Linked DNA regions of Homo sapiens: regions 1, 2 and 4 are each linked to region 3. The links come from fine-mapping of genetic effects on gene expression. A gene starts in region 3. Each other region holds a variant in brackets. All regions are shown on one strand. Distances are from middle to middle.

What was found. PIP is the estimated chance that this variant, and not a neighbour inherited with it, causes the effect.
Region 1: its variant is the best candidate, but not a certain one, in a credible set for the expression of SSBP2 in whole blood (TOPMed, PIP 0.71).
Region 2: its variant is the best candidate, but not a certain one, in a credible set for the expression of SSBP2 in whole blood (INTERVAL, PIP 0.61).
Region 4: its variant is the best candidate, but not a certain one, in a credible set for the expression of SSBP2 in cerebellar hemisphere (GTEx, PIP 0.75).

What each region holds. Positions count from the first base shown.
Region 1 is chr5:81,775,999-81,784,107 of GRCh38, forward strand. It overlaps LOC107986384 (a long non-coding RNA gene), which reads right to left and starts at 2,812. Exons shown (of 3, transcript XR_001742518.1): 1 at 2,760-2,812; 2 at 2,473-2,602. The variant A/G (reference allele first, on the strand shown) is at 3,224.
Region 2 is chr5:81,785,685-81,793,793 of GRCh38, forward strand. No RefSeq gene overlaps it. Among named protein-coding and RNA genes, the nearest start is that of SSBP2, 39 kb to the left of the region's middle. The variant G/A (reference allele first, on the strand shown) is at 3,177.
Region 3 is chr5:81,746,275-81,754,380 of GRCh38, forward strand. SSBP2 (single stranded DNA binding protein 2) reads right to left here and starts at 4,823. Exons shown (of 17, transcript NM_001256732.3): 1 at 4,707-4,823. The coding sequence starts at 4,768. RefSeq lists silencers at 3,685-3,844, 4,065-4,114, 4,555-4,604, 4,775-5,104, 5,375-5,724.
Region 4 is chr5:81,399,178-81,407,286 of GRCh38, forward strand. No RefSeq gene overlaps it. Among named protein-coding and RNA genes, the nearest start is that of ACOT12, 9.1 kb to the left of the region's middle. The variant T/TC (reference allele first, on the strand shown) is at 4,597.

The DNA of each region.
Region 1 (8,109 bases), 30 kb after region 3:
CTAATAAATGCACATGTTAGGTAATTTGCTTTTGGTGGGTTGTTTTGTTTTGTTTTGATTTGTTGTTTGTTTTTGTTTCTCAAGAAATGTTTCTTGGTCATTTTGAAATTCCTTCCCTGGAATGCAACTGATATATTAATTTGTCATGTATGCCATGTAAATGTTCTATTAGGCATAGGGTATTTGATGGAAATAACTGAGTGCATATTCATTGTTTTAGTGATGAGGTAACAGCTTAAAATAGACACCTACATTCAAGAACAGCTTCTACCCTATGAACTCCTTGAAGTAGGGATCTTATTTTCCCCCTCGTTGAGCTCTAACCTGCATACTTATGAGGTATCTGGCACACTGTGGGCGCTTATTAATCTAGGACCTTTTCATTGAGAACCTGCTAGGTCCCAGGCACTGAATTGAGTTTTCTGTGCATATGCCAGCGCACACCTCTTTATGGGTGTGTGTTTGCAGTCTTGGCCACGCCCTTTCTGCCATCTACAGAGAATTCTGGCTTTTGCTCTGCAGCTTCTCCTCTTCCCTGCTCTCTGAGGAGAATCAGACTTTTTCCAGGTTCCTAGGCATTTCTGATGCAGAATTAAGAGACCTGGAGCCAGAGGGACAGAACTAATGAGGTGGGTGGAAGAGGAAGGAAAAGAAAGATTAGCCCTAGGAGAGCAGGACTTCGGGGAGAAGGATGAGAGAAAGGCGTGGCCATTCATGTTTCTCCCAATCAATTTGTCGTAGATTACAAACAGGGTATCTTTTATTGTGCTCTGAGAAACCCAGGTAAAGAATGTGATTTACTTCTGTTTCTAGCCTCTGTCTCTTCTCCAAGATAGGACCAAGTAGGTCCCAGTTTACATATATATTATTTCTAATATTTAGAACACCCTGACAGTGTAGGCATTATTGTTTTTAATTTCCAAGTGAGGAAAGAGCCTTAAAGCAGGCCAGTCATTTTCTCAGGGCTCCTCAGCTAAAGCTACGATTTGAATCCAGTTCTGGTGAGCCCAAAGCCTGCTGTCCTTCTGCAATGCCACACTATGTCCCCATAACCATCTGTTGAATTGAGCTGAATCAAAATGCTTCCCTTGTGAGGGGCCTCTATTTATTCTGGTATCATACACAAATGGGAAAGGCTTATTTCTGATATTTGATTCAGAAGAGAAAAGCTTAACTACTATCCTGGAAAGCAGGCCTGCCTTCTGTACTAAGCTTGCCTGTGGGCTTGATGGTTCATTTTGAAGTCCAATCACTCTGCACCTAGGAAATGGCAATGTTTACCACAAAAGGTTCAGCAAAAACTGTTGCTAAAATTGCTCTGTGGCCATTCATGTTTCTTAAAATCAATTTTTTTGACCAGGTAGCTGCCTGATGCACAGAAGTGAGAAGGAAAAGGTTTCTTCAAACTGCCAACTAAGTTACCCCAGACCTTTCAATGGCCGAATAGTAAACAAAAATAAATGCACTTGTTTTGGTGAATTATCATCTTAAATGGCTTGAAGGAATGTTCTCATGGTCTATTGCCATAGAAACCATGATAAAATTTCTTATAAATACTTCAGAAACAGGACTACCTACCCCCATGGAAAATGGATAGTGTGTACAATGGACCTCCAAGGAAATAAGTGGCTGTGTGACAGAAAATAATGTAACCCATTAAAAGAAATCTCTTGATGATCCAAGTCATAATGGATGAACTGTGTATATGAACAGAAAAGGGGAAAAAAAAAAGAATCTGACAGTCGTATGAGGTGGTTTTGGACTGGTGTTCAGACACCATTTTCCAAAGTTGCATAAACTTTCTTTCTTACTGAGGAAACATTCTGTAGGCATTAACAGTGAAGTGATTGCATCTATATTCAGAGAGTACATGCACAGAGCCATTATGGACCAGAAAGGAATTGTATAAAAATGATTTGACAAAAAAAAAATAGTCAGTCTGCTATGCCAAAATCCAGAGGACTCTACCTCAAGGTGAATCTTATTCAATTCCAAAATGTCAAGTAGATCTAGTCATTTTAATATTTTTATTAGATTAAAACTTGATACCTTTATAAAAGCTAAAGAAACTGACCGGAATATAGGCTCCAGCACTGATAAATTGTGTGATCTTGGGCAAGTTGCTTGGCTTCTCTAAGCCTCAGTTTCCTGATCCGTAAACTGAAGGTGGTGCTTATATTTATGGCAGGATTAAGTAAAATAACCCAGGCAAAGCACTCCACACTGTTTTCAGCACTCAGTAAGCACTCAACAGTAAGTGTTAGAAAGTACTTATCAGAAGTAATAATAAATATAATAACTGATAATAAGTTTGCACAACTCATCAACATATAGTGCTAATTTTTTCATTCTCTTTTCCCCTTGAACTCATAGACAATATCTGATCTTAAATAATTGAAAAGAATGTGCTCAGAGAGGAAGCAAACACAGATCTGAAAGTCACAGTCCACGCAGTTTCTACATTGCTCTGACCTTTCTGATATTGGTGGATCCGGAACATTCAAAGTGCCATGGGCATCCTTCTTGCAGTATTTCCTCCTGATGTTTGAAAAGAAAGTCTGTTTTCATAAGACCTTGGGCCTGATTTCCAGTGGGAAAAGGGCTGAAAAAAATTTGGCTTCATTTCCAAGTATCTTTGCATATTTCCCCAATTGCACAGAACCTCCAAGCTTCCCCAGATTACCTCGTTTCAATGACATCGAATCTTTCAAAGGGAATGTAATAATTCCACAGAGGACTTAGCATTTCTGACAGCTTACCTCCCACTGTCCTCAGAGCTTCATAAATTATGCTGCCTCTGAATGTGAGCTGGGCAGCACCATTTTCCTGGCCCCTTACGTGATTCATGGTTTCTCTTAACTATGTCAGTGCCTTGTCAGCAAAGCTGTTCCTTTTGGACACAGTATGATGTGATCTGCTTCTTGGAGGACAGCTTGCTAATTATGTACTGATTTTATATACTGATGATTTTGTTTTACAATTTCAAGGTAACTAATAACTATTAACTTTAGAAATTACTTCCAAATTCAGAAAACATTACCATTTAATTAACAATCTGCTCTCTGCAATACACTGTGACCTGAGAAACCACTCTAATGGTAATACACTGTTATCATTAAAATTAACCAACAAACCAAAAGAATGGGTGCTGTTAAGGTCAGATATGGAAAGACCATAATTAAAAGAAAGTGAAACTAAAAACAAGTATCAGACCAAAAGATCA[A/G]CACAGCACAGACAGCCGCCGTGCCAGCTTCCCTGTTTTGCACTGCCAAAACAGCTCCCTCCTGACCTGCAGCTCCGCAGAATTCCAAACCTAGGCCCTTCTGGAGCTCAGGGCTGAGACAATTTGTTGCATGGTTTAGTAATGGAGGCTCAAAGCAAAGTGGATAAAACATTCCTGAAAATGACATGCCTCTAAAGTTCCCTCTGAGGTATCTATGATCTTTACATATGAGAATGAGCTATACATTTTTATGAATAAGTTTTATCTTTCCCCAGCCTTCAGAACTTCCCACAAGTCTTCCAAGCTACACAGGCTCTTCCTGACTTAGGAAGCTTCCACTCAGGGACGTTTGGTGGACGTTGTTCATGTGGGGCCTTCCCAGCATTGTCCTTGCCCCTGTGTCCTCAGGGAGGGTCTTGTCATTGCCAGATGCTTCTTTAGAGCTAGAGAATGCAGAATTGAGAGAAAGAGAAGAGAAGAAGGAAAAAGGCACATGGGATATGTCTAGGAAAAAAGGTTTTCAAGATTTAGAGAAGAGAGTTCTTGAAAAGCTATAGGAAGTCAAGAGGGGTAGAAAAGGAGGCTGTGGACTGTGTGCTGACAGCATGGTGTTTGAGAAAGGCAAATAAAGAACTCAATCAATTATTCTGAAATTACCTTTTAGGTACAGGCTATGTTTCTTGGTCAACATGACTACCTTGAGGTTAGACCTCTTGAATTTCAGCCTCAGGAGAATTTCTTTGGGAAAGATTACTACAGAAAAAAAGTTGGCACTACTCGGTTCTACTGCCAGAGTCCACCCGACTTCTGAGGCTTAGACACAGGAACCCTAGAGTCAGTATCGTACAAGGCTCCCTGCCCAACTCCCAGCTCCTGCTGTTGCTCAAGCTCCTCCACCAGTTCCATCCTGGGTCTCTCTCCTTAGAGGATTTTAAGAGGCCCAAGGCTTACAGAGAATAAAGGCATAGGGATTGTGCTACCTTAGAAGGATTTAAAAATTGGCCCAGGACAGGCCGGGTATGGTGCCTCATGCCTGTAATCCCAGCACTTTGGGAGGCTGAGTGGGGAGAATCACCTGAGGTCAGGAGTTTGAGACCAGCCTGGCCAACTTGGTGAAACCTCATCTCTACTAAAAATACAAAATTAGCTGAGCGTGGTGGCGAATGCCTGTAATCCCAGCTACACTGGAGACTGAGGCAGGAGAATCACTTGAACCTGGGAGGCGGAAGTTGCAGTGAGCTGAGATCGTGCCACTGCCCTCCAGCCTGGGCAACAAGAACAAGACTCCATCTCAAAAAAAATAAAAATAAATAAATAAATAAAAATTGGCCAGGGACAGAAGGCTAAAAGCCATTATGGGTTAAGTAGGGGTTTTTTGTTTTTTTTTGTTTGTTTGTGCTTGGCCTGAATTGATAATCTACCATTTTAAACATTGTTTCTGTTGGAAAAAAATGTGTTCTGATTTCCCCAAAATGGGTATATACAGGGATTTTTAAATCAATGCCCAAAGTAGGTCTAGGATAGTCACTCAATGCTTCTTAGGTTATGTTGATGTTGATTTGGCTTAATTTTTATTTTCAAAGGACAGATTCATCATTTATATTTTTAAAATATGTATATGTAGGTATGAATATAAATAAGAGTATTGGATATACACCAAGATGTTAATAATAATCTTTAGGCTGTAATATTATAATTGATACTTTCTTTTCTATATCTTTATATTTTCCAGAATAAGAAAACAATGAGGATTTTTCATTTTTAAGAAAGCAAATAACATTGAGAAACAAAATTTACAATAGCTTCAAAAAACATTTTAAATACGTAGAAGTAACTTAATAAATGAAGTGCATAACTTCTGTGCTGAAAAAGGATACAATATTGCAGAGAGAAATGAAAAAAGATTTAAATAAACAGAGAGATATCATGTTCATGGATTGAAACACTCAATGGTGTCATAACGTCAGTTCTTTCCAAAGTGATCTATAGATTCAATGTGATCTCAGGCAAAATCCCAAGAGGCTTTATTGTAGAAATTCATAAGCTGATTCTAAAATATGCAGTCATGTGTCACTTAATGATGGGGATATGTTCTGAGAAATGTGTCATTAGGCAATTTCATCATTGTGTGAACATCACAGAGTTTATTTACACAAACCTAATATAGCACATTTTACACCTAGGCTATGTGGTATAGCGTATTGTTCCTAGGCTACTACCCTGTACAGCTTGTTACTGTACTGAATACTGCAGGCAACTGCAACACAATGGTAAGTATTTGTATATCTAAACTTGTCTAAACTTAGAAAGAGTACAGTAAAAATAAGGTATAAGAGATAAAAAATAGTATACCTATATAGGGCACTTACCACGAATGGAGGTTGTAATGGAAGATGTTCTGAGTGAGTCAGTGAGTGAGTGGCAAGTGAATGTGAAGGCCTAGGACATCACAGTACACTATGGTAGACTTTTTTTTTTTTTTTTTTTTGAGATGGAGTTTCGCTCTGTCACCCAGGCTGGAGTGAGGTGGCGCGATCTCGGCTCACTGCAACCTTTGCCTCCTGGGTTCAAGTAATTCTCCTGCCTCAGCCTCCCGAGTAGCTGGGATTACAGGCGCATGCCACCACACCTGGCTAATTTTTGTATTTTTAGTAGAGACGGGGTTTCACCATGTTGGCCAGGCTGGTCCCGAACTCTTGACCTCAGATGATCCACCTGCCCGGGCCTCCCAAAGTGCTGGGATTACAGGCCATGAGCCACCGCACCCGGCCCACTACGGTAGACTTTTTAAACACTGCACACATAGGCTATGCTAATGTATTAAAATATTTTTCTTTCCTCAGTTATAAATTAACCTCAGTTTACTGTGACTTTTTAACTTTATGAACATTATAAGGTTTTAACTTTTTGACTATTTTATAATAACACTTAGCTTAAAACACAAACATATTATACAGCTGTACAAAAATATTTTCTTTCTGGCCAGGCACAGTGGCTTATACCTGTAATCTCAGCACTTTGGGAGGCCAAGGTGGGTGGATCACTTGAGGCCAGGAGTTCGAGTCCAGGAGTTTGAGACCAGCCTGACCAATATGGCGAAGCCACATCTCTACTAAAAAGAAAATACAAAATATAGCTGGATGTGGTGGCACACACCTGTGTTCCTAGCTACTCAGGAGGCTGAGGCCTGAGAACTGCTTAAGCCTGGGAGGCAGAGGTTGCAGCAGTGAACTGAGATCATGCCACTGCACTCCAGCCTGGGCGACAGAGCATGACTGTGTCTACAAAAAAATGTCTTTCTTTGTAAACTTATTCTACAAGCCTTTTTTATTTGTAAAATTTTCTTTTTTTTTTTACTTTTGAAACTTTTTTGTTGAAAACGAAGACAAAAACACACACATTAGCCGATGCCTACACAGGATCAGGATCATCAATATCACTGTCTTCCTCCTCCACATCTTGTCCCACTGGAAGGTCTTCAGGGGCAATAACAGTCATGGAGCTGTCATCTCCTATGATAACATTGCCTTCTTCTGGAATACTCCCTGAAGGACCTGCCTGGAGCTGTTTTACACTTAACTTTTTTTTTTTTTAATAAGTAGAAGGATTATGCTTCAAAATAGTAAAAAGTGTGGTACAGTAAATGCATAAAACAGCAATGTAGTGGTTTATTGTCACTACCAAGTATTATGTACTGTACATAATTATACATGCTAGACCTTTATATGACTGGCAGCACAGATGGTTTGTTTACACCAGCATCACCACAGACACTTGAGTAATGTATTGTATTGCATCGGCTATGATGTCACTAGGCCATAGGCATCTTTCTGCTTCCTCTAGTATAATCTTATGGGACCACCTTCTTATATGTAGTCATTGACCAAAACGTTTATCTACGGCACATGATTGTACAGAAAAAAAAAATATGTTGATGTTTCCTAACTTTCCATTCCTCCCAGGTTATGACTCCTGCTACTTTTGACTGGGCCCTGCCTTCTTACTCTGGTTCAGTAACAGGGCTCCCATTTGGAAACTGGTACGAAGGCCCCAGTTGCCTACCCAGAAACAGCCTCAGGTGTTGCATGGGCAAACCTTACCCTTTGCCTCATGTGGGTGAGCCTATTTGAGAACATCTTAATAAAACGTTTCCTGATCACTATGGACAAAGGGATTTTTATTGTTGGGGTGGCCCAATATTTTCATGCCCCCGGATTCCCCCATTATTGTTTCCCTTTCTCTGATTCCTTGTCCACCATCTGCTCCTCTCTCATGGCTGTGTGTTTCTTCTTTAACGGTTGGGGATCAGGTTAGCAGCTGCAGGAGAACTTGATTAGTGCCTTGCCTCTGTGCAGAAGCATTTCCCTGACAGCATTGATCCTGGTTTCGCTTTGCAGGCAGCTCCACAGAGAGGCTTGTGCTGCAATGGAGGTGGACTGTTGTCTGGTCAATGTGAGTTTGGGGCAGTCTACTAATTCATTCCTCTTTGCTCAGCTGTTAATTTTGCTTAAATAAGAGCTGCCTGCAAGTTTTCATTTAAAATCCACTGCCTGACTGAGACCTTGTGATGGCAAGATTCAAAGACAATTTTTATTGCTAAGTTATTAGTCCTTTGAAAGAAGGAAAATTTGATGTTTAATATTTAAACAGTTTCTATTTTGCAAAATTCTTTGATATCTGAATGTTAACTGTGTAACCATTTAAGGTCCATTTCCACAGACTTTTCCAGACATTTCAAGCATACAGGAATTTATTTGTAATGTTCCTGCATGAAAAATTGCCATCTCTTTTCTGCCATGGTGGCCACTGCCAACAGATATGTCCATTACGAATGAAATAAAGAGGCACTTTATATTTTGATGCATTTCAATTTGTCCATTACACCA
Region 2 (8,109 bases), 39 kb after region 3:
ATGGGACCATAGACAACTGAGGAACAGGCCCACTTTGCAGCACATAGGTTTACTAAGTAGGTTTGAAAATGTACTTCAAACAATATGAGATGTTTTCCTCCAAAGGAATTATCTCCCTCTGAGTCCCCCTATATAACGTTTCAGAAGCCACAGAAAGCAGCACACTATAGTTGGAAACACCGTACACTTTAGAGTTAGACCCAAATTAAAGTTCTGGCTCTTCTAAATATGAACTCTGGACTTGGACAAGTTATTTAACCTCTCTTTCAGTTTTCTCATCTATACATGAAGAGTAACAATATTTCCTTTCCAGTTTGTTGTAAGGAATAAATGAGTTAATTTATGAAAAAAGCTTGGCACATATTAGGTACTCAACAAATGTTAATCTTCTCCTTCCTCTGACTCACTATGTGAGTCCTATTACTTTACAGCCCATCACTGAATTTCACTCCAAATCAATAAGCATGATTTGGAAGAAAACAGAAATCTCTTTTTGACTTCTTGACCGAGTCAGCCAGAAAGTCTCCTACTACACAGGCTTTAAATAGCTGTCTTGGTCCATTCGGGCTGCTATAAGAAAATATCATAGACTGGGTGGCTTATAAACAAGAGAAATTTATTTCTCACAGCTCTGGAGGCTGAGAAGTCCAAGATCAAGGCGCTGGCAGATTTGCTGCCTGGTACGGGCCTGCTTCCTCTTAGATGGCGCCTTCTCTCTGTGTCCTCACATGGTGGAAGGGGAGAATAAGCTTTTTGGGGCTTCTTTTATAAGGGCACTAATCCCACACATAAGAGCTCTGATCTTTCGACTTAATCACCCTACAAAGACTCTACCTCCTAATACAATCACCTTGGGGGTTAGGATTTCAACACGTGAATTTTGTGGAGATGCGAACATTCAGACCATAGCAGATTAGAATTGAAAAGAGCACCACAAAGGCCTGCTTCCATTCAGATATGCATATTTTGGTCAACAGATCACTTTCTCAGTGAAGTAACATCCGATGCTAATACACGTCCAAGCCCGTGTGTGCTTGTATCTACATGTACTAATAGCACACAGCCAACAGAGTGGCTTTTTTCACCAAATAGATTCAAGATTGACTTGTTAAGCATATCTGCTCATTTGCATGAAGAAAGCTAGAATGCTTCACATACTGGGCACACTACTTCAATCTTCAGCTATAAAATCCATTAGGCTCCATAAGTTATTATTTTGCTTAAAAGAGGAATATTCTTGACAAGGAAATCCTAGGAGAAATGCACTGCATGATGCCACAGGAAATGATTTCTGGAGGACTGCAATGAGTCCAGCCAAATCACTTCAGACATCTCCACAGCCTGTCAGTCCACGTAACACTACAGGAAAACACATGCGTTCATTAAAATGTCTGATTTCGTACATGCTAGATATAGCAAAGAATCTGCTGGAAGCTGGACTTCGGTAGATATGACTAGTTTGCACCTTAAGGATTTAGATTGCATATTCTCAACTGAGGAGCACGAAAAGAAAAGAAGGCAAGGGGATCATGCTCTACTAGCTACACACAAGCAGAATTAGTCCTGAAGCAACCTGAGGAAAACATACAAGAATCATGAAACCCTAAAGGGGAAGATCCAGACTCTCTCCACCCATCCATGTCTAGTCCTGGTACCAGCCCAAATTACCTTGCAGCAGACACAAAATACAGAGAAATATTTATATCCTAAAAGAAGAGTTTTATTAAAAAAGAGTCAAAATACTAACTATACCCTAATACATTATATTCTTATGTTAATGTTCTTTTGTGGTTATGAAAAACCATAGCTCCATAAAGAATAGGAACAATGCACTTCCATTTATATTATTATTCTTACACTGTGCACATTACATGCTAATTCAACATTTGTAAGAGAGATATCAACAGTGACAAATCAAGTTTCATCAGGTTAAATTGAGGATTTTGATAGTACCAAAATTAATAAGTCATAATCCACCAATCCATAGTTTTATACCAGCCTCTGTCTATTTAAGGTCAATTTGGAAAAGTTTTCAAGCAACTACTCTAAACCTAACCCCCTTTTTCATTTTGTTATTTGGTTAGTGTTTAACTAAATAAGTTTATAATATAAGCATTAAGACTATCTAAAAAAGCATCCCCCCAGCACCCCCCCAAGAAAACCCACACTAATTTAGGTTAAAAACAAAGTAATGGCAGCAAAAGTGTCTTTAAGTTTTGCAATAATCCTTCCAGTACTTTTGCATCCCAAAAGGCTCCAGATGTGACCAGCCACTGCAAAATGGTAAGTTGTTTATCAGCATTCTACAATGGGAACTGGCACCTGTAATTTTACTCTTATTTTGCATCAGCATTATTAAAACACGTAAAAAAAATGACCAAGTGAGGGTTTTGTGTAATCACACGTACACCTTCAGGGTGAAATGCTCTGTTGGCTGTCTGTTGTCCTGAAGGTGACGGCTATACCAAGCAGCTTCCTTCTCTGTTGTCTGTGTGTAGCTGCTATGAGCCTCCTTCTATAGGGAGTTTCTGCTGGTAGCAGTGACTGGAAAATAATGTGGAAATGTTGTTCTCACAGCCTGTAAAGAACCGACTGTTGATCACTTTTGATAATGCAAAGGATTACAGTGCTTTTCTTTTTCATTCATTTTTTTCTTGTTTTCATTTTTCTTTCTTTCTCCCTGTTGGTTGCTAATAGTCATCTGTAATTAGAAAGAGGCCCCTTGTCCGCCTCAGTCTGGAGTGAAGGTTTAAGAAATAAACATATTTGAATCATGTGATGACAATTAACCACTTTGTTAAGCCATAGATCCCACTTCACCCTTACCACCTCCTCTTAACCCGGAGCTATGTTCCATCCTGCCTAAGGTTTTCCTCACTGCTTCAGCCTGCTCCCAACTTTCCAGTTGTTTAGAAACATGACAAACTGACTTTTGTTTGTTGGCACTTCAACAATGTAGATTATTGGAACTTCACTTTTGCTTGACTGCTGATTTCCAATCCTATATAGCAACAAAGTGTAATTTGTTACTGATATAAAATCAATGGGAGCTAGAAGTTTGCTGTTTTAAAAAGTTTCTTTTCTTTGTTCCTGTCAAACAATTACACACTCAGATGCTTGAAAACAGGTTTTTGTTTGTTTGTTTTGTTTTGTTTTTTGAGATGGAGTCTCGCTCT[G/A]TCGCCCAGGCTGGAGTGCAGTGGTGCAATCTCGGCTCACTGGAACCTCCACCTCCTGGGTTCAAACGATTCTCCTGCCTCAGCTTCCTGAGTAGCTGGGATTATAGACGCCCACCACCACACCCTGCTAATTTTTTGTATTTTTAGTAGAGACAGGGTTTCACCGTGTTAGCCAGGATGGTCTCGATCTCCTGACCTTGTAATCCGCCCGCATTGGCCTCCCCAAGTGCTGGGATTACAGGCGTGGGCCACCACACCCAGCTGAAAACAGGTCATTTTTTAAAAGACTCTTTCTGCAAGTCCTTTGCATACATGTGAAGAGAGATGAGTTGGGAAACTGAGGAGCAGAGGGTTTAAGTGACTCACCTAGGACAGCAGAGTGAGTCATCACCAAGCTGAAGTGGGGACTCGGTGTTCCTGACAGCTGATGGTCAGCACAATACACTTGATTATATGGCCTTGGGAGTTAGAGCTCCACAAAACTCTCATTTCTGGTTTAAACTGGGCTTTGACTAGTTTTGTTTCTGCTTCTTATTAATGGCAGTTAAACATGTATTGATACAGTCAAATAACCACAAGGCCAGGGATGCTCTACTTAAGGCCATCCAGGAACTTCCAATTGCTGTTTGCTGTGCACAGGCATACTGAAGCTTAGCGTGCTGAGTATCCAGCAAAACCTAGCACGATCTTTATTTCCCTAAGTTAGTTTTAAAATTGTCTTGGCTGGGTGCAGTGGCTGACGCCTGTAATCCCAGCACTTTGGGAGGCCGAGGCGGGCGGATCATCTGGTCAGGAGTTTGAGACCAGCCTGGCCAACATGGCGAAACCCCGTCTCTACTACAAATACAAAAATTAGCTGGGTGTGGTGGCACGTGCCTATAATTCCAGCTACTCGGGAGGCTGAAGCAGGAGAATCGTTTGAATACAGGAGGTGGAGGCTGCAGTGAGCTGAGATTACGCCACTGCGCTCCAGCCTGGGTGACAGGGCAAGACCCCATCAAAAAAAAAAAAAAAAAAAAAAGAAAAGAAAAGAAAAAAAGGCCGGGCGCAGTGGCTCATGCCTGTAATCCCAGCACTTTGGGAGGCCAAGGCGGGCGGATTACGAGGTCAAGAGATTGAGACCATCCTGGCCAACACGGTGAAACCCCGCCTCTACTAAAAATACAAAAATTAGCTGGGCATGGTGGCATGTGCCTGTAATCCCCGCTACTTGGGAGGCTGAGGCAGGAGAATCACTTGAACCAGGGAGGCGGAGGTTGCAGTGAGCTGAGATCGGGCCACTGCACTCTAGCCTGGGGACAGAGCAAGACTCCGTCTCAAAAAAAAAGATGGATTAAAGAGGGTTGAGAAAAGAGGCAGAGACTAATAGACTCGGGTTAAAAGCTGGCAAAGAGTGGGAGTGTTTGAAGATGTATGAAATGCATTCCAGGCTGGGTGACAGGGCAAGACTCTGTTTCAAAAAAAAAGATTGTCTTTAGTGTCAGCATGGTCAAAATGTTTACATCCATCCAAACAGCTTATTTCAAAACAAATACACCCAGCAGTCGGCCAATCAAGGCTTAATATTAGGAGAGTCTTATTAATATGAAATGTGCAAGGCTGTGAAACGTGTAGGTGAATGAGAAGATAAAAAGATGTAGAGTGGTCACATCCCTACTCGAATGAAAGTGAGACCTCATGCACGACTGACCAGATGAGAGTGACCACGGTGTCCCAGTGACAGCTGTGTCAGGATCCATTAATGTTTCATAACTCACGGGGCCCATTATTAAGCATGCCTCTCCTCAACAGCGTTTGGGGGTTTGACCCGAGTCCTCTGCATGTCACTTCATTTTAAAAGGCTATTTTTCAAATCTGGAGCCATCATCGAAGGTCTCAAAAGATAAGTTATTTAATGGATAACAGAGTATTTTTTAGTAATATTAGTTATTTTAAAGAAATAAGGTGAGACTCCTAAAAGCTGGAGCCAAAGGATCCTTCTGACTTGAGTGTGAAGGAAAAGACCCTCTCTTCTCCACCATAAGCTCTCAGTGTAGGAGAGTCCCTTGGGCGAAGGCAGAATCTGGAGAGAATCAAGATCTCCCCCTGAACTTACCAGAAGCCCTTGGAGAAGCCCTGGAACCACCTGTCTCTAATTAATCTCTCCTGTATTCCCTTAGCACTTACACCTCATAATTATATTTATGATTGTAATTGTATTATATTACAGTTCAGATCTCCTTATGATAAATACCATCATAATGAAAACTTCACTATTATCAAAAGATTCCCCAGCCTTAGCCAATAAACTACTTATTTCGGAAATCCAATAAAATAAGGTTCTATTGAAATACAATAATTTGGATGTTCCTTCAATTATGTTGTAAAGGAATTTGACCTTGCGGCTATATTCTTTGTCATGTGAGAGTGCACGGGCCCTTCCTCTGGATCATAAGATCCTTAACAAAATAGTCCCTAAGACAGTTTCTTACGTAGTAGATGCTTAATAAACACTAGAACAAGTGAATGATTTGCAATAGATGTGTAATGGAAACTGGATCCCCCAGTATAGAGCAAAGGCATCACTAAAATTATTGAACTGCAATTAGCATGGCCTTCATTCTTCATTACCATTTTTATCAGTATTTGAATGAATTAAGTGTGAAACTGTAGCCCTGATGTGAAATCTTTTAGACTTTTTGTTCATCCCTGATGCTTCCTTCAAAAAACAACCAGTTTTATATCAGCCAGTAACAGAAGACCTATTTGTGCCTACATGACTCTGTCAACACTGGCATTAACTGGCTGGTAGTTTTCTGGCCTGTGATATTTATTTCCCTACAGCTCTGATTATAACATTGATACAAATTCTTCAGTCCTAGTGGAAGACAATTTTACATGGACACTATTGGTCCATTGTATTATAGTATTATCTATATATACAAACCATAGCACATATTTGTCTACTCTTTTGGAAACCGACATTTTTGAAAAATAGTGTCATAGTGGCTACACTGAAAGTAAAATATTTTAAATCAAAAGTTTAAATATGATAAGCAAACACTAATTTATTCTTACTAAATGTGAGCAGGATCTTTGAATCAAGGATGCAATATGACTATTAAAACTCCTACCTCTACCTGATGAGAAAAGATCATATTAGAAGATGATGAGGCCGGGCGCAGTGGCTCACGCCTGTAATCCCAACTACTCGGGAGGCTGAGGCAGGAGAATGGCGTGAACCCGGGAGGCGGAGCTTGCAGTGAGCGGAGATCGCGTCACTGCACTCCAGCCTGGGTGACAGAGCAAGACTCCGTCTCAAAAAAAAAAAAAAAAAAAAAAAAAAAAGAAGATGATGGAGTAGGGAACTTAATTTATTACCCTCTGGAAGGAGGTTTTTCTGGGCATATGCTGTACATGCTTATCAAGAGAAGTATACAACAAGCAAATGGTAGAGCTGGAATTCAAAGCCAGAGCTGCCCTTTACCATTGTGCTACCCTCCTTCCACTCCAGGAACGCCCTTTTCACAACTGAAAACAATTAACGTTGGAAGATATACTCAATCCCACTTAGCCAATAATGCTCCACAGATTGACAAGAAAAGAAAGCAATGCAATAGGGCAGAGTTGTACAAATCTAGGAAAAATAAGTAATTTAGGGCCATATCCTATATCCTTCAATAAAGATGATAATGTGCTGATGGAAAGGAAGGCTATGGAGGTTAATGTTAATATTAAATTATTGAATCACTGGTGATTATGAGGTTATTAAACAAGTTATCCTTTCTGTACTAGTCTCCTACTTGTATGTCTGGTCAAGTACCCAAAGCTGAAATCCTATATCTAGCCCAAAGGAAGGAGCTAAAAGCCCCAAGATCTCTAAGAAAAAGAACTGCAGCAGCCGTGCAATGAAATATAAACTTTGGAGACAAATTTAGTTTTCAATCTCCGCTGTGGTGCTTAGTAACTGCATGACTTTAGGCAAGTTATATAACCTTTCTAGGCCTCTGCTTCTTTGTTAGTAAAATGGGGATGATGGTTACTGGCATGTGGTTCATAGGACTATTTTGAGTAGTAAATGACAAAATGCAAAGATCACACTTGTGTATACTACTAATTGCTCAATATTATTTGTTATTTTAAGTAGTTATTTGTTGACAAACAAAAATTTGACATTCATTTCCGTCAAAATTTTCTTCATACATGACATGCCCAAATCCCTTTAACTAGATTCATTTTTTTTTTTAATTACAATGCTCTCATTAGAAGAGAGAATCTATTTTCTCTGGAAAAAGAGCCACATTAATGATCATGCAAACTTCATTCTTCAACTTTTTTTTGTAAAATTTTTGTAGACCATACAGGAAATAACACCAAACTTCGTTTATGGTGCTTAGCATTATTATTGCAGTTTGATGATTTTCCTAGAAATTGAAAATTTTATAATAATTTATTCAAGAAAGTTTTTATCTGAGCTCTAAAATTCCTTCAGATTCATAGACCTGACAAGAAAGAAAGTCATCAGGAGTGTCAGATAAATAATAAATGGGACTGCAGTTTTAGAAGGTGCTTGAGTAATACTGTCTTCAAAGTTCTCAAGAATGAGAGGATTTGCATTGGAATCAAACCAACACATTTAGAAGGTGGGGTATTTGCAGTGCTGAGGTGCCCCCCCTCACGACCCAGGTCACCCGCTCTAGAACGCCTTCCTGGGCCCTCGACAGCCATGAGGAGGCACCTGGCCCCTCAGGGACTTTTGCAGTACTTTGCGCACAATTCACACATAGCAGTTATTACACATATGCCTTATTTTGTTTTGTTTGGGTTTGGTTTGGTTTATATTGCATCCATTGAGATTTTTTCTTAAAAAAATGAAATCTAAATATGCTGCTGGCCTGCTCAAAATCTCTCTCCCTGATTTTAGGAGAAAAAAAGTCCTGAACACTTCCACGTG
Region 3 (8,106 bases):
TTCGGATACAAGTTAAACAACTTGTATTTTGGGGGAACATCCTGGAGACTGAAAGGGGGAGGGGCAATTTAATATTTTACACAAAATTTCACTTCCATAAGATACTCCTTCATTAGTTTTGGAAATCCTGAATTGTGCGAATTGCTGTCAAGTAAGTTTCTGAAGAGATCTCTATTACTTTTCTTGCCTTATTCCTTCAGAAAGAAAGAAAGGTTTGTCATTTTTCTTTGCAGGGGGTACCTTAATGATGGGGGAATGCTTTAATTACTTTAATGGTAGAAGGGGAGAACAAGGTGATGCTGGCAGATATTAATCCCTTTTATATGAAGTGGCATTTAAATGTTCATTATACTGTAACTACTTTGAAATAAGCATATGGTATTTGCTTCTTGGTATATTCAACTAACATTGAAAATTTAAAAGCCAAAGTTACTTTTCAGAGCTCAAGATTAGACAGTTTGATTCTTGTAGTTTCTGGCTAGTTTACTAAATAAAAGTCGGTATATATTATGTGTATCTTTTATGTTCAACTTTGCTTTCTAGCAGATTCATCTTTCTGTGCTTTACATAAAAGATCAAATTAGTTTAATAAAAAATTAATATCACTACTCATCTATTTGCAGGTGCCAGTTACTCTTTCTGCGGTAGTGTGGCATACTGTGTGGCTTTAAGTTCAGCAACATTTCATATAGGAATTGTTCACAACTATTATGTTTAACTTTAAAACAAGCAATCAAACAAAATTCCTGGGGGGGGGGGGAATCTGAAGAAACAAGTTTTCGTCATTATGTTAGGCTTCCAACTTTCCTAAAATTTCTGTGCCTTCTCCCACACCATACACAGATCTGCAAAGCATCAGGGTGCACCAGTGGTTAAGACTGCATATTTGATCAAATCTTTAAAGTCTGTCACATCTGATTATGTAATGCTGTTCCCTAAATCTGTAGCATCCTACCCTAGTTCAGGAAGACAATCTGGTACACTGAAAAATGTATCTTTCAGCTTCAATCACAGGTTCTAAAGTTAGAGAAATCTGTGTTAGAAACCCAGCTTTCCTGTTTTCTAGCATTGTATCCCTCGGTGAGTTCTTTAACCATTCAGGGTCTTAGTTTTCATATTTCTTTAATGGAGGAAAAAAAAAGCAACTGTCTTGTAGATTTGTTGGGAGAATTAAGAAAAAAATATACATAAAACACTGAACATAGTGACTGGCACACAGGATGGCAAATAAATAATAGTTATTTTTGTTGTATTGTTGTTTAGGGGTATTTCTGAAATACAACTAAGCTAGAGAATGTGAAACTCAAACTTACAAGTCCTTATTTTGGAGGTCACTGAAAAAAAATTTTTTTACATTGAAAAAATTCCTTTGAGTCTAACATCTTCAATAACAATAATTTATTGATGCTTTTGGTATTAGAAGGCACCTTAATGTTCAAGATACCTCAGAGAAGAAATTAGATTATCTCCTACCCTCAACAAACTTATATTTTAGGGAAAGTTAAACATTAAACAGCCAATCACGGTTATTTAATCACAATTGCGATTAGTGTTATAAAGAAAGCCTGCTAAAGGAAGAAATGACCTAACAAGATCAGAATTAAAATTTCTAAATCCCACCTCCCTCCAAGGGTTTTCAATCACTCCCTCTATAATTAAGACTTGATCTGCTTTTCTTAAAATGACAGAGTAAGTAACTAATCTTACCCTGATCATTTTTATCAGAACTGTATACTGAAATTACAGGAATTGTGTAAAACCAATAATTCACTTCAAATATTTCATATAGTGACTTCCTAATGAAAGACAAAACAAAGATCTAATACAGGTAAGCACTTGTCAACTATTCACCATGAACTCATGTTAGAAAACACATTTCTTGATTATAAAACCAATGTGCTTATTTCCTAAGCATGCTATTATTTATAATAATGACTCCTTTTGCAGAATGTTTTTGTTAAAATGAGTATTTGTTACAGAAACAAATTATTTCTGTGATTTTTAAGATAAGAACAGTTCTAATTTGCTTACTAAAGGAGAATTCTTCACCTTTTATAATCTGTTACCTTAAAAATTAAGAACAAAAATCTGGTGACATCCATTTTAATGATGACTTCAAGATTCCTACCTTCAGATGTTAGTACATTGTTGCAGAATAGTGCCATTAAAGTCCCAAGTAAACATAAAGAGAAAAACCGAGAGATTAGATCAACTCTCCCACCAAGATGAAATTAAGTTTATTCTATAAGACAGAACCTACGTCGATGTTTGTCTTAGATTCAAACAACATTAACCTAGAAATTAATGCAACGACAATTAACCCAGAACAGTCATTGTCAATTCTCCAAAAGCGGCCTCTTCACCTATATTTAAGTTCATAAGGCAAACCAGTCAAGAATTCCTGCTGCCAATTGAAATGAATGGAAGAAATATATTTAAATCAAATAGCACCATCTAGCAGAACCCTGATCTGCTCACGAGAGTAGATATTACTTGGTGTTCAGTTTGGTAGATTTGACAGCAAAGTGGCAATTATTTGTTTTCCTGGTGGGAAATCACAGAATTAGAGCTAGAAAGGACCACAGTTATGCAAGTTCCAACATCCTTGTTATTATCTGAGAAACTAAAAAAAAAAATCAAGCAGTCCTCAGGATACTGAGTGGGATTCAACTAAAGTTCACCCCTTCCTGGAAGTTCACCTAAAATCTAAAATTACTTTGATTCTCAAATTCAGTCACCCCCAAAATAAGATCATGCCTCAATACATTTCAATCACTCTGACTAATGTGAAATTCAAATATTCTGTGATCATTAAAACATCCTCCTTCAGATGTTTTTATCAGGCACATTATAACAAAATGATTAATGCACACAAATGAGACTGCATTTCAAAACTTCAATTCTAGTAACTGCCGTTTCTTAACCAGGCTATAACGCTATGTCTTTTATATACTACTTGTCACAGCAACAAGATCCTGAATGCAGCTCAGAAAATATCTCTTGCAAAAAAACAAAAAAGCCTCTCTAATTTTTGTTTTGTTTTGTTTTGCTTTGCTACATCAAGGCCTGATACCTCTAAATCCTATGGGAATTGAGTGTGTTGCTGCCAACACAAAGATTAGGAAATGTTCCCATCCCTAGGGCACACAAAACTTTCAGGGGGAGACTAACTGCCTAAACCAAGGAGGGAAACTCAGTCGCCTGCGCATTCGGTTTTTATTTACGCAGCTATTTCTGTGCGCAAGGTAACCAAAGTACCTTTGAGAGATGCTCTCAGACTTTTTCTCTGGTCTGAACCCCCTCAGAAAGACAGGGTGCGTTCAACGACAAGGATAACTCTGACCCTCAGAGTTTAAGTGGTTACTGGGAATCACTGATCTGTTGCACAGTTTAAAAAAAAAAGGGGGGGGTTCTTCCTCAGTGATCACAGTCACTATTCGTTCTCATTTTTAGTAACAACCAAATCACCGTTACAAGTACACAAGAATAGCAGCAAACCGCTTTGCTTTGCAGTGTGCCGTGACAGTGGCATCCCGGGCCGGGAGGGGCTCTGTTCTCGCCAGCCGCCTCTTGGGCTCCCACCGAAGTTAACACCTGTATCTCCCCACAACTGTAACCAAGCGGCTCCTTCCCACCTGAACGCTTCTCCCCTCCCACAAACCCCTTTTCGGACCACTGGCCCTCCCCGCCACAGCTGCCCTCCTCGGGCGCCCCCGGCGGCTCCCACAACTCCCCTCCGCGCGCCCCCGACCACCGCCCCGCCGGGCCCGCCCCTCCCGCCGCTCGGGGGCTGCCAGCCTCACAAAAAGTTCGCCAGCCGCCGCCGCGGAGTTGGGTCCGCTGCGAGAGGCAGAAACGCCAGCCTCCTCCAGCGGATCCCGCTCCTCGCCAACACACTTTAGCTCCCCGGGAACTCGGTCCCTCTCCGACTCCCAAACTTCGGCGGCGTCTCCGGCGCCCACCCGCCCCCGCCCCCGCCCCAGCCCCAGCCCCAGCCCCGCGATGCGCGGGGGACTGCGGGCGCCGCGTCCGTAGCTGGCCCAGGAAAGCCCGGACGCCCAACCCGCACACGCCCTCCGCGCCCCGCGCGCGTCTCCGCGCCCCGCGGGGCCCCGCTCGGCCGCTCCACGCCCGGCTTCCGCCCGCCGCGCGCCCGGCACCGCCGCCCTCGCCTCGCCTCGCCCCGCGCTCGCGGCCCTAAGCCCCAGCGCCCAGGCCCCCGCCGCCGCGCTCCCCGCGCTGCCCGCCCCGACCCCGGCCCCGACCCCGGCCGGCCCGCCAAACACCCACATTCCCACTGCGCGCCTTCCTCCACGCAGCTGCCCCTCCCGCCACCCCCGGCGGCTCCCCAGGTCCCCGGAGCCCCGGACCCCAGCTCTAAAGTTACTTTGGAAGGTGAACCCGCGGGTTATTTCCCTCAATCACCCAAACAAGTTTCCATCCTCGCCACCAGCACCACCGCCGCCCCTCAACACACCCGGTCCCTCCCGCCGACAGCCCCCTGCGGCCGCCCGCCCAGCGCCCGCACCTCCCGGGAAAGCGCAGCTCCCCGCACCACACGCCCCCATCGCGGCACCCCTCCCCCTGCCAGCCCACCCCCGGCGCTCCCCGGGCGGAGAGTGTCTGTGTCTCCCAGAGTGTGCGAGTGCGTGCGTGAGTGTGCGCGCGTGTGAAGGCGGAGGTGGGTGAGAAGCGGAGACACTTACTTCTCCCGGGCCTGGCTGTCGGACGGGACGGCGCTGCTGTTACTCTTGCCTTTGCCGTACATGCTTGTGCCGAGAGCAGCTCCCACTGTCACGCACCTGTCAACCCATCACAGCCTCCCCGGGAACAGCCCCGTCCCCATGGCGACCCACGCAGCCACCCCCACTATTGGCCGCCCCACGCCAAAGCTCCGCCCCCTTCGCCCAGGCAACGCGCGAGACTGACAGGCCTCCCCCTCCCTCTGGCCTTCCGAAGCGCGCGGTGGCGGCTAAGCCTCAGCGGCAGTCTCCTCCCTCCTTCCCTCCCTCCCCGACTCCCTCCCTCCCGCCTTCCCTCTCCGCTCTCCTCCCTCCACCCGCTCTCCTTCCCCCTCCCCCCTCCGAACCCGGGCGCAAGGGGGGAATTAGAAACTGCTCTAGAAGGATTTTAAACAACTGGCTGTTCTCTCCGCCGCCACCCCTCCCCCCGCGCCGCCCGCGCTCAGCTCCTCACTGGAGAGAAGGCGCCGGGAGGAGGAGAAACTGCGGCCTGGAGTCTCCGGCCGGAGCCGGCGGAGCTGGAGCCGTGGCGGCCCCAGACTTCGGGGCGCCCGCCGAGTCCACGACAGAGCCACGGCCTCAGCCGCCCTGGGGCCCCCACCAGCCCCTCTCCCGCTCCTCTCCTATGCGTGACCCCGCGCCGGTACCCACGATTGATTTTTGCGGTCCTCAGCCCTACTCCCTGGGGTGTCGCCCCCGCCCTGTTCCCAGAGGGCCGGCTGGCGAGGGACACCCGCGCGGTTCCCTCGACCTTCTGGCTGAGCGACCGACAGCGACTCGCCTTCTCTCCTGGGGAAAGGCTGCACCTCCGGCCCTCGGCGCCGCTGCGGTGGCGGCGCCCGGGGCCGCGCCCTGCGCCCCAGGGGAGCACCCGGCCTGGGGTCGGCCTCCTCTGTAAGAGGTGAGCGGACCTCCCGAGGAGGCCCGGTGACTCCTGCGGCCGCAGCGGCCCCTGCCCCAACCCCTTCTTGCACGGAGCCCCGCGGCGCCCTGGACACCCCGCCAGATCTGCCGCAGAAGAGGGCCCCAGGCTTCCCCACCCGGCCTGGTTTAACAGTTTGGGTCAGTGATGCCTATTCATCCTGACCCCTGGAGTGGAAAAGGCCAGAAAAGGTCTTGAAAGACTTCCCTGTCCTTGCCCGTTAGAATAGGCCCCAGCGCGCTCCAAGGTGTACAAAGCTGTGCCAGGGCTGAAAGGCTGCCCGAGAATGTTTCTGTATCCAAATCCCTAATCCCATTTCAGTAAACGCGCAAAAGTTTCAGAAACACACACAATCTGGTTCCCAGTAGAACTCTGCATCATTTATCTTATTGAAGTCCTTGACTGTAAAATCAGACGGGTGCAAATGGGGTTAGAAAGAAGATGGGCTTCACACGGGGAAGAAGGGGACAGATGGGGTGGGACAGGGCGACATCTGGAAAGGATGAATAGACAAGAAGTAGCTATGGGAGGAGAGGGAAATCGGATTCGCGTGGAGGAAGGTACCGTTCTATTCCACACACACACAGCTTTAAGCATTTAGTAGGAGGATCATAAAATGCATATGGAGATATACAGATAGATGGAAAGGAAAGAAATGGGTGTGAGCATTGACAGAAGTGATAGGAATAAAACATCAACAGATGATTAAGGAAGGGCAGTTAGCAAAAGTGAGAGGTCGAGAATCAAAAACGCGGTTGGCAACCAGACATAAAGACGGGAAAATGAAGAGGAAGGACTTTCTATACTGGTGTTAATGACAAGGAAAAAAACATGAGGAAAGTGAGGTATAAAAAGATGAGAAGACTAGAAGATACAGGATTAAATGAAGAAGCCATAGAGTGTGATAGCAAAAGATTAAAAGTAATAGAGGACAGACATTATCGTTAAAAAAAAGATATAAGAAAAAAAGCACTTTTATTAAAAGGACAAAAATTAAGCCAATAAAGGAAATGAGGGGGGAAAAGTGGGGGAAAAAAATACACTGGCTTAAGTAGATTAATTTCCAAGAGATGTAATTTGCCATTTCTGACTTAAGAATTCTTCTGTCAGTTTCTAATGACCTACAGTTATTGGGTGGTTAGGATATGGCATTCATATTCTTCTTTTTGTTTCTAATGACCTGCAATGATTGGGTGATTGAAGCGAAGCTGAGCCAGTCAGCCTCTCTTAATGAACTTTTGCTCAAAATGCTCAAATGTGTATAAGGTTGCCACAGTTTACAGACTCAACTTCAAGGTTAGCATTATGTAATTTTTTTGTTCAATTATCTACTTCCATTGGCCTTAACCCAGAAAATTTTTAGTATATCAAGGCTCCATCTCTTATAGAATACTCCCTATAAAGGTGCTGCTCAGAGAATGCTGTCAGTTCTCAGAGAGCTCTGGCAGCTTCTCAGACACCCTCCTGCCTGCCCCTGGAAAAACGAACCAAGGGTGGGCTTTGTCCTACTATCCAAAAACAAAGTAGGTATTATCCTTGCACTGGTGTTGGGACTCTCTTAACTATGGTTCTCAATCATGGCACGTTAGAATTGCCTTTATTTTCATTGTTGTTGGGTTTTGTTTGTTTGTTTATATACTAACTGGATCAGAAACCTTGGGGATGGACCCAGGTACCTGCATTTTTTTCATAAGCTCCACGTGGTTCTTGTGTATAACCAGGGCTGCCTGCCTTTGCTCTTCAGTATCCATTTAAAGACAGCCAATGGGTACCATAAGAGATTAGTACAAGACTTTTAGGTTGGGCTGTCCATTAACAAATGACCCTACTCAAAGCATTAAGATGTCTTTACAGTGTACTTTACTTTCTGCCACCAAGCCAACAAACTTGTTAATAGGACAAAAATGTATGCCCATATGTGTTCTCATAGTACAAGATCATGAATAGCCATGGTTTAATTTGCTATTTCCTATAGAGAAAGGAAAATGAAGAAAGAGAACAGGAGAAACTGTTTGCTGTCTACTGCTATAATTTATTCATTTGATTGGTTTTTACCCAGATTTGTTACATTTGGAAGTCCTATGGGTAATGGCATATTTTCTGATGTTTAAAAAATAAATAAATTATAGATCTGCACAGTGGGGTATGGAATTTAGAACAATTTGGTCTTAGTCTTTGGAAAGAATAAAATGCTAAAAGGTCTTAGTTCAGAACTTGCGAAGTTAATGTCAGAGTTACCTTTATAAGAATGTTCTCATCTGACAAATATACAAAGTGAAAACATGACTTTTATATGTATATGTATCCTGTATATAGTAACCTTAAAGCTTAAGTAATCAAATCAATTATCATTAAAACAGCTCAGCAGCTACCTGAACCATCTCTGTTTTATTTTCCTCTAAATGTTTTCACATGTAAATAAAATGCTTCTTTGCCCTTGTT
Region 4 (8,109 bases), 350 kb before region 3:
TCCTGAGTAGCTGGGATTACAGGCACATGCCACCATGCCATTCTAATTTTTGTATTTTTAGTAGAGACGGGGTTTCATCATGTTGGTCAGGCTGGTCTCGAACTCCTGACATTGTGATCCACCCGCCTCGGCCTCCCAAAGTGCTGGGATTACAGGCGTGAGCCACCACACCCAGCCAATAACCTGTTTTTAACAATTTTTCCATGTGCTTCTGCTGCACAGTATGTTAAAAACTACTGCCGTATGGTGTCTTTCTTTAAAAGAGTAAAGCTTACAGTGCAGTCCTTCCCAAGAACATCTTCAGTTTAACAGGGGGCCTTTTCAGACCTGTAAAGGAATTTGTGATGCGGGGAAAAGGGTCACAGTCTTGGGTCTGGAGAGATGTGTTTGTGTCTGAGTTAGACCCTATCCTTGCTAGTGTTGAACTCGAATGTATCACTCAATTTACACATTAGTTTGTTTTTTTTTTTTTTTAACAAAATAGGGATGCTTTCCCTATTTCATAAAGTTGTGATTAGATCATAGAAAGTATTATCAAATGGAATCATGATAACTGCTATTTATGGAGGGTCAAGTCTCACAACAACCTTGCAAGTAATATTCTCTTTAAAGAGCTGGGAAATCAAGCCCAGATAATTCATAAGCACTTACAACATGCCACACATCCCTATGAAGTATACAAACTACTACAATTCCCATTTTATAGATGAGGAAACTGATGGAACTTGCCCAAGACCACATAACTAGGAAGTAGTAGAGTCAGGATTCAAATCTAGAAAGTCTGGCTCTTGTTCAGCTGGGCTAGGAAGTTGATGCATGTGGTGCAGAGGACACATGGGAAGTGGGAGAGATGGGAGTGGTGCCCAGTTCTAGCTCCAAAGGCCATGCTGGTGCCTCTATTTCAAGTCACCTTCATTCATTCAATCAGCACATACTTATTGAGTGCCTACTTTGTCGCAAGGACTGTTCTGGTCATTGGATAAATGCTGGTGAGTAAAATAGATTGGTCCTTAGAACTTTATAGAATTCATAGTTTAAAGATAACATGGAAATGGCTACAAAATAATGTTGACTATTCTAATGAGGATGAAATGGAATGATAAGCACATAGGGAAACTGGCTGATGGCTGTGTGCAGCTCCTGAAATTATAACCTGCTGTTGACCGTCTACTAGACTTAAGATCAGTGCTGAGTTGGGTCTGTTTTTTAAAACAATCACCAACTTACAGAAAATTTGGAAGTCCTGTACAAAGAACATATTTTTCTCTGATCCATTTGAAAGTAAGTTGCCAACCTGATGCTTAGCCCCAAGTACTTTAGTGTGAATTTCCTATAAACAGGACTTTCTCCTACTGAACCATAACACACCATCAAAATGAGGAAGTTGACATGAATCCTCAGAGCCTGCTATGGTTTGAATGTATGTGTCCCTCCAAAATTCATCTGTTGAAACCTAAGACCCAATGTGACAGTTTTAAGATGTGGGACCTTTTGGGAAGTGATAAGTCCCGATGGCTCTGCCCACATGAATGTATTAGTGAGTGCCCTTGTAACAGGGCTGGAGAGTACTATCTACGTAGGCCCTCTTTGCCTTTTTTTTTTTTTTTTCCTTTCTCTCGAGGTCACCATGTGAGGACTCAGTGTTGTGGAGCCACTAGAAGCTGAAAGGGGCAGGGAAGGAAATCTCCCCTAGAGCTTTTGGGGATTACGGCCCTGCCAACACCTTGAGTTCTGACATCTGGGCTCTGGAACTGTGGGAGAATCAATTTGTCTTCAGCCCCGCAGTTTGTGGCAATTTGTTACAGCAGCTGTAGGAAATGAACACACCAGCCACCTAGAAAACCACCAGTTCAGATGGGTGGGTCAGATTCCAACTCCACCTGAAGGGATAATTCTAGTTTTCTCCCTCCTCATATTTTCAACTCCGTTTTCTGACAAGAAACCTGGCTTCTGTGATGCTTAATAGATTGACTTCTTTGGTCAGTCCCCCATATGACAGCGACCTCCCTGCTCCTCTGCCACCCTTGGCCCTGAGGGGGCTCCCTCCCGACCTCCCCACTGGACTCAGGGCAGTGTCCTGCTCTGGGCACACACCCATATCCTCTGTCTCACCTAATGGCTAGACACACATTACTCGGAGGGGAAGGGAAGGAGAAGGGTAGAGGAAGACCAGCCCTGGTTTATGCCCACCCTTGCTGGAGCATCTCGACTCTCGGTGCACTGCCCTGCTCCCCTGGGAGGTGCTGGGTGCCCACCGTGCCAGGCTGGAATGCGGGTGCCCCTGCAGGAGGCTGAGCCTGTATGTGATCACACAGTGCAGGGGTCAGGCTTCGATGTAAGAGTGGCAGGAGTGCGTGTCACCGTCTTACCCTCCCCTCCTCAGAGCGTCCCGACGCACCTGCAAAACCCAGTGTATCTTTCTACACATGTGGTGTCATTGGCCAGGCCAGGGCTTGGCTCCTGGGAGTGGTGCTGCAGGCAAACTGGGGAGAATTGAGATCCTTTATTTCAGTTAGGATAAGGCATGCATTTAAATGTCAGAGGCATTTCCTGGTGGCATAATGGATATTTATCCCCTATTAGATAGGGAGCAATCTGCACTGAAGAAGCCTTCAGATTAAATTTCAGGGATGAACCAAGATTCATCCTGACAGGTATATAGATCCTCAAAGAATAAGTCCTCATAAAATAGCCTAAAAATGTTCCTTATGGCAGTTCGATACTTTGTAAAGAGCCCTTATTATTTGTGCTTGATAATGTATGACTTAAATTTAAGAACTGTTTAATACAAGCATGTCCTTTCTCCCTAAAGTGATTCATTCATTCATTCATTCACACAGATTTTTCTAAATATCTAATATTGACCAGACACTGGGCTAAGCATAAGCTAAGTACTCTGTTTTTAGAGAGCTCAGTAGGGTGGGGAACACAGATTGCTAAGTCAGTAGTACAATGTTTATCGATATGGGCACATCAAAAGATATGATACTTAGTGCCCTGGGGACACAAGGTGGGAGGTTCTCCTTTGCACGGGCTTTCCTGCAAAGGCTCTGTTGCTCTATCAATCAAACAGCAGGACATAGGCAACCTAAGCAAAGGGAAATGCTTGTAGGACTTCCAGGATTGATTAGATATGGACAGCAGGTTTGACAGTGGGGAGGAGCAAAGGCTATGCTGCAGGGCTGCCCCTGTTCCTTCCATCCCGTGGAACTCTGTCAAGATCCAAAGTCCAGAAGACAGCATCTACCTGACCAAGCTTAAGTCATATGTCTGCTCATAAACTTAGGGATGGGGAAGGGAAGGGAAGGGCAAAGGGAGAGGTGAAATCTGTTTCTTTCCCTTTCAGTAGAGATGAAACTGGTGCCTGGAATAATTACCTTCTTACTAAGATTAAACACACTAGGGAGTTATTCTCTAAAAGGAAAACAAACTCAGATTAGGAATGAAGAATGGAAGCTGGACAAATCTTTACAATGACCAATGACTCTTACCTGGACATTCAGGCATGGGGAAGAATATGGGTAAAGGCAAGTCCTTAGTAATACTGCTGAACTGCTGGATCAAGCCTTACCTGAAACCAACTGACCTTGGAGCTTTCCAGTTATGTGAACAAGTAAGTGTCCCCTATGCCCTCCCATTTTTTGCTCTAAGCCCATTTGAATTTGGTTATCTGTCAGTGTAACCAAAATATTTCTAACTGATAGACCCCCAGAATGTTTTTTAATAAGATTCTAGGCAGTCTTTTTTCCCTAAGAAATTATTGATTTTTACTCATTTTTCAGTCTCTGAGTGACATTTGTGCTGCACGTTTATAGCTCATATCAGATGACTGATCCAGCTGATAATATCACATTTTCAAGTCATTTATCTCAGATAGGTAGTGTACAAACAAAATGATGTTTGTGCCATGTAGGCTAATTTTTAAAATTGTTTTTGTAGAGACAAGATCTCACTGTGTTGCCCAGGCTGGTCTTGAACTCCTGGGCTGAAGCAATCCTTCTACCTTGGCCTCCTAAAGTGTTAGGATTGCTTGTGTAGGCCACCATGCCCTGCCACATTCTTGTTTTCATAATTAATCTGAAATTTGTTTTATCCTTAAGAGTTGTTTTTAGGTAATTTTAACTGTAGAAATTCAGCATGGTTTATCAAAATATTTTTTGTAAAATGGAACTTTATTCTACAATGTATCGAAAATTGCAAGACACAAGTACCATTGAAACAGGTAAAGGTTTATTATATAGAATGGTGAAACATAAAGAAAATAATTTTATTCTTTTTAAGGAGCCTTCATTAAGAAAACCCAATTTAAAGATATTTCTGTTTCCAAATAATTTATGTATATTTGTTGCAGCATAATTCTCCAAACATACCTAATGTAAAATACAAAACTATTTGAAACCGAATTCAAATATAAAATATATATGTGTGTGTATATATATACATACATATGTATGTACATATATGTATATGTACACATATATACATATATATGTATATGAGCTATAAATGACTGTGCTAAAGATGCAGAAACCTGAAGACTCATCAGTGCGTCCTCAAATCAGGCAGGTTGGTCAGCCACCAACAAGCCTCACCTTT[T/TC]CAAGTCCTTGCCCACCAATTAAGGGAAAATGTCTATAATGAACCATAGACTAACAAAGATTTTATAAAATGACTTTCAAAGGATTTTTTCCCGAAATGCCCTATGTGATCTGGCAACTGCCTCCTTGTCCTCTTTTTTCTCTACCTCCAAAATAAATCAGGTTCTGTGACGTTTGATGCTAAACCATAATTCGGCTTTGGGCATTTTAATTAAGATATTTTTGTGAAATTCACTTATCTGTGGCATCTTTTTTCTTCTTTTTCTAAATTCATATTCTAAACATTTCAGGAACTAAAACTTCAATACTACATCAACCGTATTATTATGGTAGCTTTCTTCCTTTAAGTGGACATTTAAAGTTCTCTTCAAAGCAATGAAAAAGAATGGCAAATAATCTCCACAAGAATGAGTTATATGAATATGTTTTGAGATTTTGATACCTCTGTTCTTGAAATATCTACTAGCAACTCATTAGGTCAGAGTCTTAGAGCTTAGACATAGTGAAGCTCAGAATGCAATAAAGGGGACAAAAGTCCTGTAGACTAGGCATTAAAAAACCTTTTTAACCTTTAAGACAGAGTCTTGCTCTGTTGCCCAGGCTGGAGTGCAGTGGCATGATCCTGGCTCACTGCAACTTCCACCTCCTGGGTTCAAGCAATTCTCCTGCCTCAGCCTCTCATAAAAAACATTCTTGTTAGCCAGTTATGTGAACGGGATAAATCCACTGGGCATATGATACATTTTTTCACATTACTGCTGTCATCATTCCTTAGTTGCTTTTTTCTTTAGGATCCTGGAGTTGTCTGAAAAGATTGACATTATTCGACTATTTCTCTGGCATTTCAATGAGAATAGACTATTAACAAAGGAAAGTGAACTCAAAAATAGTAAATTAGACCCCTTAACTTGCTCGTATCAGCAGAAAAATAGATTAACAATTTTTTTTCAGATTCTTTCCCTACACTGATAGTTTTCCAGCTACTTATAAGATCTCATCTTGATATCAACAGTGTTAGATATTAACAAAATACAATAGCATTAAGAAGACGTATTTCATCATTCTACTTTATTGAGAACCTAAATAACCAGTTGAGAGTTATGTAGGGAAAGCAAGATTAGAACCCACGTTTTCTGTCTGCTGATACTGTGCTTTGTCATTCTGTGACACTACACTGCTTCTAATAAAAGGCCTTCTATTTCTTAATTTTTAAGAGTAAAAATATATCTTAAGCAAAAACAATATGTTGAAAACAAATCTCTGTGGGTTTTTTTTTCTTTTTCTAGAAGTTACACATATTTCTTAGTAGGAATACATTTCCATCTTTCTGTTTGGAGTGAGTCACATTTTAATGTTTTGTTTCAGAATTTGCATCTGAAGGGTTAATAAAGATACAGTATGGCATAAAGGCTAAACATAGCTCTTAATGCTGCTGGCGATCATCCCCTGGAATATACTAGTGCTGAGATTTATGGAGCCCCTTAGGCTCCCACAGACCCTCAGCTTCAGGGAAAGGAAGGCTCACTCCAGAGAACAATGTGCATATATTCATTCTGCTGCCCTGCGGCACAGCCCAGCCTGCTAACCTGGTCACCTTCTGCCTCACTCTTCAGTCTTAGCTTTTGCGTTGATGTACACGTAAATCACTTGGGACACAGAGTGAAATCACAGTATTTAATCAGCATACTCACTGGTCAATTTTACTTGCCTCCTTGCAAAGAAGCAAGTCTTATTTCAGAGCTCTAAGCTGTTAATTATTGTAAGCAATCCATCAAATACATAGGTTTCTGAAATATGTTGGACTATGATTTAATTATTTTCCTCAATTATTATTTTCTGCTATTTCAATTTTTGAAAGCCATACAATTAATCAGTTATAATTGGGTATGGGCGCCTCTCCACCAATCCATGACCCCCAGCGCCTGCATCAGATGTTGAAATAACACGATAAATGTGTTTGGATGAAAAAATACTGTGGTGACATGTTTGGATGAATCAAGTTCACATAAATGGTACAATAGATGGGATGAGCATGCAAGCTAACATAGCTTTATATTGCTTATGTTTACAGATTTGTGCAAGTCTTAGAAGCCTAGATACACTTACTATGCACCATATTTAAGAATTGTTGATTGAAGAGGTGGACAATAAAACAATCAAGCCATATTTCCTGCATGCAAAGGACCAGTAATTAAGGATGAAGGGGCATGCTCTCTTCCTCCCCTGCTTTCCCCTATTGTTACCAAACATTAAATATTCAAAAGCATTTGACTAAAAATGTCACTACACATTTATAATATTCCATTAAAGCTGATATAAAAAATATTAATAGACATTTGTTATGGTATTATAGCATAAAAAGGCTGTAGCGGCCGGGCGCGGTGGCTCACGCCTGTAATCCCAGCACTTTGGGAGGCCGAGGCGGGTGGATCATGAGGTCAGGAGATCGAGACCATCCTGGCTAACAAGGTGAAACCCTGTCTCTACTAAAAATACAAAAAATTAGCCGGGCGCGGTGGCGGGCGCCTGTAGTCCCAGCTACTCGGGAGGCTGAGGCAGGAGAATGGCGTGAACCCAGGAAGCGGAGCTTGCAGTGAGCCGAGATTGCGCCACTGCAGTCCGCAGTCCGGCCTGGGCGACAGAGCGAGACTCCGTCTCAAAAAAAAAAAAAAAAAAAAAAAAAAAAAAAAAAAAAAAAAAAAAAGGCTGTAGCATAAAAAAGGTGAGCAAACTCAAGATCTACCATGATCAAATGTCTACCTAATATGACATGCCTAACATTTATCAGTAGAAGTCAGTTATCATGTTTAATAAAAATAATCAGCTTGTTTTTGAACTATCATTTTCTATCAGTCATTGAACACTTTCTTGTTTCTTCCTTTAAAAACTGCTAAAACTCAGATAGACAAGTAAAATTATTTATTTATTTATTTATTTATTTATTTATTTATTTATTTATTTTTGAGACGGAGTCTCGCACTGTCGCCGGGGCTGGAGTGCAGTGGCACGATCACGGCTCACTGCAACCTCTGCCTTCCAGGTTCAAGCGATTCTCCTGCCTCAGCCTCCCCAGTAGCTGGGATTACAGGCGCCCACCACCACGCCCAGCTAATTTTTTGTATTTTTAGTAGAGACGGGGTTTCACTATGTTGGCCAGGCTGGTCTCGAACGCCTGACCTCGTGACCCACCCACCTCGGCCCCCCAAAGTGCTGGGATTACAAGCGTGAGCCACCGCGCCTGGCTGACAAGTAAAAAAATTTTAAAGAAAAGCTGAGAACACAAAGTATACAATTCCTAATAATATGTTGATAAAGAATTACAAGTTGAAAATAAAATTTGCAATAGCTAAAAGTTTCATGGGTCTCTATAGAAACCAACAGCGGCAAGGGGATTGCTGCAGGGGAGGCGTGGTGGTGGTTCATTCTTTCATTCTAACGAACTGCTACTGTGTGCTATATAGACTTGAGGAACCACCTGCTGCCTATTCAGTGATAAGTGTTTACTGACATTGCT